3 linked regions of the Homo sapiens genome follow. The protein of the gene in region 2 interacts with the protein of the main gene of each other region in a pairwise test. Each region holds a gene or a part of one and is shown on either strand. Other genes may lie near its edges.

Region 1 (3,750 bases), on a different chromosome or scaffold from region 2:
CGGGTCCAGGGAGGTGTGACACAGCACAAGGCCACCCTGAAGCAGCAGGATGGTGAAACAACAGCCAGGAAATGCTGGGAAGGACCAACTTCACCATCCTCACAAGCCTTATCAGCTCCAAGCTGAGCACGTCTGGGTTGGCAGAGAGGAGCACAGATGAAATTCTCGCTGACTAAAAAGAAATGCATGCTGCCAACTCATCACTGTACTGTATCAACCCAATTTTCCCGAGAGGATTTCCAAGGTATTTCTAAATCATTTCAGGAAAATGAGGGCTTGTGTTAGCATGGCAGCTGTCAAATCATGTATGGTGTGCCCTGCTGTCAGGGCACAACAGCCATGAGCTTCTTAGGATGATCAGCCAATCAGAGCCTGCCCTTGGCAGACTCCCTCTAAGTTCATTCTGTAAAGGGATAAAGCCTTTGGCAGGTAAAGTTTTCACCACTGCAGAGGCACAAGCATTAGCCAAAGAAGGTCCCTTAGGCATCATGATACAGTCGAGGCCTTGAGCCAGTGACTGAGCAGCCATTATCTTTGAACCCTCCTGCCTAGCACAGTGTCTGGCATAGAACAAGCACTCAATACATTTTTGTTATATGGATAAGTAAAATGAGCAGAGAATAAATCCTAAAATCATAATTACCTTTTTTTTTTTTTGAGACAGTCTCGCTCTGTCACCCAGATTGGAGTGCAGTGGCACGATCTCAGCTTACTGCAACATCCGCCTCCCAGGTTCAAGAGATTCTCCTGCCTCAGCCTCCCCGGGTAGCTGGGACTATAGGCGCCCGCCACCACGCCCGGCTAATTTTTGTATTTTTAGTAGAGATGGGGTTTCACCATATTGGCCAGGCTGGTCTTGAACTCCTGGCTTTGTGATCCGCCCACCTCGGCCTCCCAAAGTACTGGGATTACAGGTGTGAGCCACTACGCCCAGCCATAATTACTTATTTTTAATTCTCTGTGTGTTTGTTTTTGAGACAAGGTCTTGCCATATTGCCCAGGCTGGTCTCCAACTCCCGGGCCCATGCGACCCTCCTGCTTTGGCCTCCCAAAGTGATGGGATTATAGGTGTGAGCCACCGCACCTGGCCAAATCATAATTACTTAAATCTACCTCCTAACTGGGCATGGTGGCTCATGCCTGTCATCCCACCACTGTGGGAGGCCAAGGTGGGAGGATGGCATAAAGCCAGGAGTTTGAGACCAGCCTGGGAAACATAATGAGACCCCATCTCCACAAAAAAATTAAAAATTATCCAGGTGTGGTGGCACATGCCTGGGAGTCCCAGCTCCTCGGGAGGCTGAGGCAGAAGGACTGCTTGAGCCCAGTAGTTTGAAGCTGCAGTAAGCTATGATTGTGCTACTACACTCCAGCCTGAGTGACGAAGTGAGAACTTATCTTTAAAAAAACATCAATCAATCAATCTACCTCTACTCCATTTTTTTTTCTTCTAGGCAAACTCAGCTCCTTATTAGAATATACGAGGCTGTCCAGGATGTGTTTACTATCTATCTTTCCAAACTTGCGTAGATGGTCCCCTACGCTGACTACTTTCCTACGGCCCCCTGTACTGTTTCTCACCTCTGAGCCTTTGCCTGTGCTGTGCCCTCTACTGGCAATACCACCCTTTCCCACTTTCTTTGATTAATTTCCACTGTTCCCCAAGACTCATATTATTCCCTTCAGAAACATTATCTGACCACCTCGTTCACATCTTTCTCAGCTACTCATCCCCTCCCCTACATACATACACACACATATACATATATATACACACATATATAATACACACACACATACACACACACACACACATATACTTTTTTTTGTTTTTTTTTTGAGACAGGATCTTGCTCTGTCACCCTGGCTGGAGTGCAATGGCACAATCACAGCTCACTGTAGCCTTGACCTCCTTGGCTCAAGCGATCCTCCCAACTCAGCCTCTTAAGTAGCTGGGGCCATAAGAGCATGCCACCATGGCTGGCTAATGTTCTGATGTTCTGGTGGAGACAAGGTCTCACCATGTTGCCCAGGCTGGTCTTGAACACGTGGGCTCAAGCAATCCTCCTGCCTCGGCCTCCCAAAGTGCTGGAATTACAGACATGAGCCACCACATGCCCCTGCCTTTTTTTTTTTTTTTTAATTAAAGAAGAGGTCTTGCTGTGCTGCCCAGGCTGAAGTGCAGTGGCATGATCCTACCTCACTGTAACCTCAAACTCCTGGGTTCCTCCCACATTGGCCTCCCAAAGTGTTGGGATTACAGGCATGAGCCACTGCGCTGAGCCAAGGTACTTCTTTTAATGTGTTCCTTTAACACCCTGTACACATTCCCACGTGGTGGTACAACCTTTAAGTATTTGTATCCCCAACTAAATTGTGAATTCCTTGAAAATAAGGACTGTTTTATTCATGCTTGTATCCCCAATACATAGCACAGAACTTTACCCTCAGAGGATGCTCAGTGTTTGATGAATAAATAATGATTGACAGAGAATTTGGATTCAGAGCTCATAGTACAGAGTTCTCTGCAGCCTCACATGACCCCCAACAAACATGAATGCTACTGCTCTTAACACTACTACTGGGGAGAGAAAGAGTCCTCTGATTACTATCGTAAAAAGAGAAGGTCACTTAACACAAATATGGGACAGAGAAATGACGGGGAGAAGGAGTATGCAACTTGGCAATGATACCTAATCTCTCCCTTTAAGGGCACAAATTCCACTTCTCACACAGACACACAGACAGCAGGCATGGAGTTCACTTTAGCACCTCTACTCTTCATAAGGCATTTCAGACATTTTTTTTTCCCTTCTAAAATTTCTGAGCTAATAGGGATCCTGGAGAACATACTGTCTAGTACACTTTCCTCATTTGACCTTTGAGAAAAACAGGGTCCAGAGAGATTAGGGTAACATCTCACCCCAGTAGCTGAATCTGGGGAAAAGTTCCAGTTTCCAGACTTTAAATCCAGTGCTCTATAATGATCTGGCTGCCTCTCTGCCCTCATCAAGCTCTGCCCATCCAAAAACCTAAGGGGCACTGTCTTGCTGGATGGGCATCCTCAGCAGCTCACAGACCTGGCCCTGCTGAGGCTGTGCGATGATGATCTGCCCAGGCTGGATGGTGGTCGTGGAGCTGGTGGTCTGCTGGCCTTGCTGCTGGCCCTGGACTTGGACAGCGGTGGGTTGCTGAGCCAGCGTGAAATAGTACTGGACTGGCTCGGCAGGAGTTACAGACTGGCGCACCTCCTCCTGTTGGGTGGAAAGAGAGGCAGGTAAGAGGAAAAGAACCAACTCAGCAGCCGCCACAGTGAATTTCCACTCTTCCCCCAAACAGGCTATGTGCAGTTGCCTGCTGAATGCTGAGCTCTCCACATTTGAAGCCAAAGGAAAGTGGAATTCAAAGAGACCAGTTATGCTAAATCAAACTAAAAATAACAGATCCTATAGGCTTCACAAAACATACAGCCAATTTCTGAAGTACGAAATAATCACCCATTGCATGATAAGTTGCAAACGGGCAAATAAGTACCGTAACTAAAAACCACACACCAGCAGTGCTTGTCAGTAAATGCTGTCAAGGCCTGTGATCTGAGAACAGTGCTAATTGCAAGTGTTGGGAAGATGCTACCCAAACATCATGCCTCTCAGGCCTGGTCCCAATCTCCCAAATAGGCAGCACTCTTCTCGTTTTAGCCCCACCACTTCAAGGGGGACAGAACAGGTTAATGGGAAACAGGGCTTTTCC
Region 2 (3,750 bases):
CTCTTCCCACTTTCCCTCTCTTTTCAGAGTCTCCAGTCTCCCTTGCCCTCTTCCTGGTCTCCACCCCCAGCTTGGACCTGGTAGGAAAGTCAGGAAGACAGCAAAGATAACACCATGGGTAGACCTGCTGCTGGTGGTGGTGTCATCCATTATTATGTAGCCCACCTGGCTGCTTCCATTTAAATGGAATTTAAATTTAAAATTCAGTTCCTATTTCAGGTGCTCCTAGCCACACGTAGGTGGTTGCATGGGTAGAGAATCTTTACATCCCTGTAGGAACTTCACTGGGCAGTGCTGGCCACACCACGGGGCAGGCATTCTTGTTCCCGCAGCTCGTCAGTCAATGTGTGTTGAATGACTAAATGAGAGGGAGATAGACACTAAGTAAGGGGAAAAGTTGTGTTCAGAAAGTCATGGAGGTTATGAAGACAGTGCCATAAGGATGATGGCCAGGACATCTGCGAGGGGAGGAGCTGGGGTGGGAAGGGGAGGGGCTGGGGTGGGATGGCAGGTGCAAAGGTCCTGGGGCAGCCAGTGGCTTGAACTCAGTGCAAAGTAGCCTGTGAGAGGCATGTGGAAGATTAGGTCAGAAGGTGGGAAGAGGTCAGGTTGGTTCCTTGGGGTGCTGGAGGTCAGAACAAGGAAGTAAGGAGCCGAGGGGCATCCTGAGTACAGAGGGCCACCATCTGATGTGACCCCTCTGTCCCTGCCCCTCTCTGCAGGCCCCTGATTGCTGATTCTGTCCGCCTGCCACACCGGCTCTGTCCGGAGCCACTGGGACTCGGGATCCAGTCCACACACACCCCTCAGAGGGGCACTGTGGCCAGAGAAATGCTTCCACGGCCCAAAGCCCCTGCCTCCCCCAGACGCCCCCAGACCCCAACCCCGAGTGAGCAGGACGCAGACCCTGGGCCAGCAAGCCCCAGGGACACCGAAGCCCAGCGTCTGCGCTTCCGGCAGTTCCAGTACCACGTGGCGAGCGGGCCGCACCTCGCGCTGGGCCAGCTCTGGACGCTGTGCCGCCAGTGGCTGAGGCCCGAGGCGCGCTCCAAGGAGCAGATGCTGGAGCTGCTGGTGCTGGAGCAGTTCCTGGGCGCGCTGCCCAGCAAGATGCGGACCTGGGTGCAGTCACAGGGCCCCCGAAGCTGCAGGGAGGCCGCCAGCCTGGTGGAGGACCTCACACAGATGTGCCAGCAGGAAGGTGAGAGGCGCAGGCTTCCTGCCCCGGGCCGGGCCAGGGGGCCTGACGTCTCCGAGGACCGAACTGCCCTCCTTCCCGCCCACATCGCTCCCACCCCTGCCCGGCCCCTCCCGACCAGCAAACCTCTCCTGCCCCGCGGCTGTGTTTTTAATTATTTTTACATATAAATGTGCTGCACGCCTCATCTGCCTCGAATTTCTCACTCAGTCGGTGATTAAAGATCCCTCCATTTCCCATGCGTCCATCTGTCCTGTGGCTTTGTGTCTGCTGCTCCTCACGGCTGCTCTCTGGGAAGGACGCTGCCTCGCCACTTCCTCCCAGCCACCTGCAGCGCCTCCTGCAACACTCAGGAATCCTAGAGATCCTTAAGCCTTCACAGGGCGCAGGCCCCATCGCTGGCTGATGGTGGGGAGAGACGCTTAGGTCTGCATCCCGACTCTGGGAGCTGGGAAATTTGGGGTTGAAACTGGGCTCCCTCCCTGTCTCCTCTCTCAGCTCCCCTCTCCCCTGACAGGGCTTTGTCCTTCTGCATCTTTGCCCCTGTGACCCCACGTCGAGATTCCATCCACCCAGGGCCCAGTCCCATGAGTGGGGCTCTTTCTTTCCTAGTGACAAAAGTGCAGGGATTGGACACTGGGAGGCCAAAAGAGGCAGCCACGGATGGTGAGAGCAGTCGTGGCACTGTGGCCTCGGGAGGGCTTCCCCAGCAGGGCCCCAGCAAGGAGGGTGCCAGGCAGCCACGCTGCAGGAGCAAAGGCTGGGAGTGAGAAGGGTTGCATCAGAGCTCACAGAAAAGAGGGGTGGAGCAAGGGAGAGGAACAGGCCCTCCCTTTGCACCCTCCCACTACAGCATTTCCGTAGACCAACAGTGATAAGCAGTTTGCAGAACACAGGGTCCAGGGTCCCCTTACTGCCCCAGGGCAGCCGGTGCCACACTTAGGAAAGCTGTGACAGCTGAGCTTTCCAGAGGCTCAAGGGTAGCCCTGTAAGCTGCAAGGCAGAAGCCAGATGAATTGGCCCTTTGAACTCTCTGATCCTGGGGTAGAGGGCCCAAGAGCACTGGCTTCTGGCGCTCTGTGGACCTCACAGCCATCCCAGCCCAGAGCCACCCTTGCTAGTTTTAATGTTCCATGGTCACTCTCAAAATTCAACGTTTTTGAGCAAAGGGCTCTCTATCTGTCTTCCATAGCGGTGGTCTGCTTTCTACATTCCATATTTTGAGCCTATGAAACAGTAGAGCAAGTATAATGAACAGCCCTGCACCGGCCACCCACCCTTATCAAAGCCCAACCTAGGAAATGCTTTGTAATCTCAGCACTTTGGGAGGCCAAGGCAGGCGGATCACAAGGCAGGAGTTCGAGACTAGCCTGGCCAACATGGTGAAACTCCGTCTCTACTAAAAATACAAAAATTAGCCGGGCGTGGTGGCGCGTGCCTATATTATATCCCAGCTACTCAGGAAGCTGAGGCAGGAGAATCGCTTGAACCCAGGAGGCGGAGCTTGCAGTGAGCCAAGATCACGCCACTGCACTGCAGCCTGGGCGACAGAGCGAGACTCCGTCTCAAAAAAAAAAAAAAAAAAAAAAGGAACAACCAGTGGAATCAGCTGAACCCCCATGCACGTCTCCTAGTCCTGTTGTCCCCCGCTCTGCCTGACACCCCAGAGGTGGCCGTGATCTTGAATTTTTCTTTTTTTAATTAAAAAATAAATAGGGGGGGGTCTTGCTGTGTTGCCCAGGCTGCTCTCAAACTCTTGGGCTCAAGCAGTCCTCCTGCCTCAGCCTCCCAAAGTGCTGGGATTACTGGTGTGAGCCACCACGCCTGGCCTGGTTCCCACGTCTTGACCCTTCTGTCAATGGTGTCCTGAACCCTGCTTCAGCAGTCGTCCTCTGTGCACTCTGTGCACACAGCCCCGGGGGGCTTGGGGAGCAGAGGGCTCACAGTGCTCGGGCCTCCCTAGTTAGTCAGTGCTGCAGTGTGTGTCCTCGTGGGCTTCTGGAGGCGCACAGGGGTGTGGAGTATGAGTGAAGAGGGTACTTGTCTTCAGCGGCCCTCGGTGTCACCACAGGTTCCTGCCCAGCAGCCACATGGAGGGACAGAATGACAGCCCTGCAGCCACTCTTGCCTGCGCCTCAGGGGTGCTGCAGGGATGTTCGGGGAAAGTCTGCCCTCCCCAGAAGGCCTGGAGAATTGGGGGCTCTGGGAAGAACAGGCCCCTCTCACGATCCCTTTCTCCCGCACAGTTCTGGTATCTCTGGACTCGGTCGAACCCCAGGACTGGAGTTTCGGTGAGGAGGAAGATGGGAAGAGTCCAAGGTCCCAGAAAGAACCATCGCAGGTGAGCCCGGGGCCCCCAGCTCCGTGCTCCTGCACCCCAGGGCATGCGTGCCGCTTCTGGGACGGCCTCAAGGATGCCCCATCCAAGGACTGTGTGAGGTTGTCCCCAGCGCTCCCAGGAAGCCCGGCCTCCAAACTCCCCGCCTGCCCCACAGATTCCCCAAGCTTCCTGGGGCTCAGTGCTGGGCGAGGGCAGTCAGTGCAGCTGTGTG
Region 3 (3,750 bases), on a different chromosome or scaffold from region 2:
ATCCCAAGTAACATTGGGATTATTCTTGAACAGTACTTATTTTTCTCTGAAATGAAATCTGAGACCGGCAGTCTAGAGTTGATACGGCAGCTCCACAAATATTAGAGATCCAGATTCCTTCCATCACTGTGCTCTGCCATTTTTAGCTTATGGTTTCCATCCTCAGGATTTCTTCATGTCTGCATTTCAGGCAGGAAGAAGGATTAATCTAAGGAAAGGGCAAAAAGATGCTTCTCCATGATGTTAGCCTTCTTTAAAGAACTTATTATTAAATCTTTCTCAGTAATTTTTGCCAGCATTTCATTGACCATCCCCAGCTGCATGTCAGTCTCCTATTGGCCATATGGCCACTTCCAGTAAAACTGGAGTCTGTTAATAAGGAAGAAGTAAGAAATGGAATTGGGTACCAACCAGTAGCACATTCTTTTCTTTTGCTCTTAATATATTGTAAGCATTTTTCCTGCCACTGTGTACCACATATGTTTTGAGTGTGTAAGAGATAGCAGATATTTTGTTCCTATATGGGACACAGCAATAAATAAGACAGCTATTGCTTGGCAGAGGCAGGACATGAAATGATGTTGATGATATAATGAGAGTAATACATTTATAAGTTTTATTTGTTTTCAGTTAATTTCATTTGGTTAATTAGTTCCTAGTACTGATGTGTTAAAATTCATGAAAATAATTTTAAGTTAAACTCTTAAGTTTTCTAACTCTGTGAATCTGTGTTAGAAGGGTTTTATTTAACTGAAATAAAAGCTCATAACTGCTTCTTCGAGCTATTTGACATTAACATTCAGAAACAATCTAAATTTTCTCTAGAAAAGAATTTACCTGAAGTTTTAACATTAGAATTTGAAAGAGTATGATGAAAAGAACACTGTACCAGTTATGTTGACTAATTTTGATAAAACAAAAAGTTTTAATCTAATGCTATTACAGTTACTATTGTTTATAGATTGCAAATATATTTGTTCTAATGAACTTTACCCAAATGATATCCAACATGTGGGATTTTTCCTTATAATGACTATACCACTAAATAAAATCATTTGTTTGATCTTTTTCTAATTATAAAACTTTTTTCTTATATCTGAAGTCTGGCCCCTCTGTGGAGGAGCTGGTAAGTATATTGTTTCTGTTTTGCTTTAATATGTCACGCTGAAGTGTTCTTAGTGTTTTATTTGCATATTATATGTTGTCACTCATTGTATTTGAAAATAGCATTAATAATGGCAATTTTTTAATGTTCCAGTACCTGAAAAGTTCAGTGGATGGCCCATTGCTCTTTTCTCACTGCATGTTGTTAAACATTTTTCTTTTGTTAGTGATTTATAGCCATTATTTGCAGAGCCTGTCAATTTTTGACAATTTTTGAGCCTTGTAGCTTGCTCATACCTCTACTTCAAAGAGCAATTGGTTTTCCCACTTCAGGGTATTGAAGATATATCAAGCAGGCTTAGTTTTTAACCCCCTTAAGTTTCTGTTTGAAATTATTTCCAGAAAAGAATGTGCATGTTGGTTTCTTCTTCATCTACTGCGTTACAACTTTTCAAGAGTCTTGAGAATAATCGTATGGCCTTTGAAACAATTGAATTTTGAAATGCTTTAGCAGAAGTTATTTTAGAAAATAACAATACATTTTTAATATTTTTCTCATTACCCCAACCTAATCAAGTTCCAATTTGTCTTATGGCTTTACCTCTTTTGAAGATATAATCTTTGGTATCTAAATGTAAAATGAACATCTTGGGTGTTACCTAGTAACAAACAGGTTAACTAAGAACCAAGAAAATTTTTTTCTGGAAATCTAGAAATGGTTAACTTCAGTTTCCTTCATCTTATTCTTGCTTACCTCTGTTAATTTCGGGCCCAAGAGTTTGTCAGATTCATTAGGGATTTGAATCATTAAAACCCCAGTGAGTGGTAGCTTAGTATGTCTCCCACATTTCATTAATGTAGTATAAATAGCTCATTAAAGTAATTGAAAGTAGGTAATCATCAACATAAAGTTTATTTAGCCCATAAGCCAAAGAAATCTTGGTCTAGGAGTGCTCTTTCAAAAGTTGCATCAACTTTAACATGTCATAAGAAAGATTTTTGTTTGTATCTCCAAACTGGTTTCTTTTGAAACAGATACTTGCCCTTTTAGGACATAGGTTCTGAAATAAGAGTTTAATAATTCCAAAATTATGTTAAAAGGAGGATTCTAGATTGAGTTTTTCGAATCCTTTAAAACCAGTATCTAGAAATTACGTTCTAATCTTTTTTTTCCCAGAAATTGAGTCTGCTAATCTTTCATCTGTTTGTCATATATATAACAAATATTTTTAATCAAAGAAGTGATAAATATATCTAGCATTTAGTAGTTGTCATTAATTTTAGCTTGTATGTGTGTGTGTATATGTAAATATATTTTTTTTAGGATTATCGTATTTATTGACTAGTATTCAAATATATCTATTTTGATGTTGTTCAAAACAGTAGACCAAAGGAGGCACATTAAATTAGTACCAAAATATATTCCATGAATTGCTGAAAATTTGCTTAAATTTGTTTCTTAGCTTCTCAATATCCAGAATAAAAAGGGAAATAATTATGTAAAATAATCAGTGCCCATACAATAGAAACAATACTATTCATCATTTCCTCAAGAGAAACAATTTCTCTGGTGCTAAGGTAGGTTTTTATTTACGTCCTCACAAAAGGGACAAAGGGGGTATAGGGAATAATGTCTTCCACATATTGTGAACAAATGTAACCATGTTTTCATAGGATTTGTGGATTCTGTAAAAGCAGTTCTGCTCAGGATAAATGCAAGTTTTCAGTGTTTACGTGGTTTTTTTGATCTATAAATAACAGTTAAAATGTCTATTGGGGTCCTTATTTAACTCTCAAAAGGGTTTTAGAAGTAAATAGCAGATTCAACTATCCATTGAAGCCACTTTTACTAATATGTGATAACATGAGCTTAGAGTAGACTACTTTTCTTACTATACTCCATATCAGGGTAACCCATGGCGTGCAATTATTTTATCTAGAAGTAGTTCCAAGATGTTATGGTACTAGTTCAAAAGAACTACATCCAGATCTTTGTGTTCCATTTTATAGAGATGATACATTGTTGAACTGTAGGCTTTTGTGCATTTTCAGGAACATGGTCTAGTGCTAAAGAGTTTTTATTTTCATTAAATTATATGCTTTTAAAAATTACATAGGAAAGAGAGCTTGAGGCAAACAAAAAAGAAAAAATGAAAGAAGCACAACTTGAAGCTGAAGTGAAATTGTTGAGAAAAGAGAATGAAGCCCTTCGTAGACATATAGCTGTTCTCCAGGCTGAAGTATATGGGGCGAGACTAGCTGCCAAGTACTTGGATAAGGAACTGGCAGGAAGGTGTGTAAAAAATGGGTATTATTGTACTCTTAAGTGACAAATTGGATATTTAATGAGGTTGACTCTTACTTCTTTCTTTTTTTATTTTTTATTTTTTTGAGATGGAGTCTTGCTCTGTTGCCCAGGCTGGAGTGCAGTGGCATGATCTCTGCTCACTGCAACCTCTGCCTCCTGGGTTCAAGCGATTCTCCTACCTCAGCCTCCTGAGTAGCTGGGATTACAGGTGCCTGCCACCACGGCCAGCTAAATTTTGTATTTTTAGTAGAGATGGGGTTTCACCATGTTGGCCAGGCTGGTCTCAAACTCCTGACCTTGTGATCCATCCACCTTGGCCTCCCAAAGTGCTGGGATTA

Evidence for each region.
Region 1: the proteins of ZSCAN1 (region 2) and NFYC interact in binary tests that used the Homo sapiens proteins (3 or more experiments, as listed by UniProt).
Region 3: the proteins of ZSCAN1 (region 2) and GOPC interact in binary tests that used the Homo sapiens proteins (3 or more experiments, as listed by UniProt).

What each region holds. Positions count from the first base shown.
Region 1 is NC_000001.11:40,757,625-40,761,374, reverse strand, and holds part of NFYC (nuclear transcription factor Y subunit gamma), read right to left. Parts: intron 3,255-3,750; coding exon 3,081-3,254; intron 1-3,080. UniProt on the Homo sapiens protein: Component of the sequence-specific heterotrimeric transcription factor (NF-Y) which specifically recognizes a 5'-CCAAT-3' box motif found in the promoters of its target genes.
Region 2 is NC_000019.10:58,037,006-58,040,755, forward strand, and holds part of ZSCAN1 (zinc finger and SCAN domain-containing protein 1), read left to right. Parts: intron 1-722; coding exon of another isoform or gene 723-831; coding exon 832-1,201; intron 1,202-3,444; coding exon 3,445-3,539; intron 3,540-3,750. UniProt on the Homo sapiens protein: May be involved in transcriptional regulation.
Region 3 is NC_000006.12:117,574,824-117,578,573, reverse strand, and holds part of GOPC (Golgi-associated PDZ and coiled-coil motif-containing protein), read left to right. Parts: intron 1-1,102; coding exon 1,103-1,126; intron 1,127-3,221; coding exon 3,222-3,397; intron 3,398-3,750.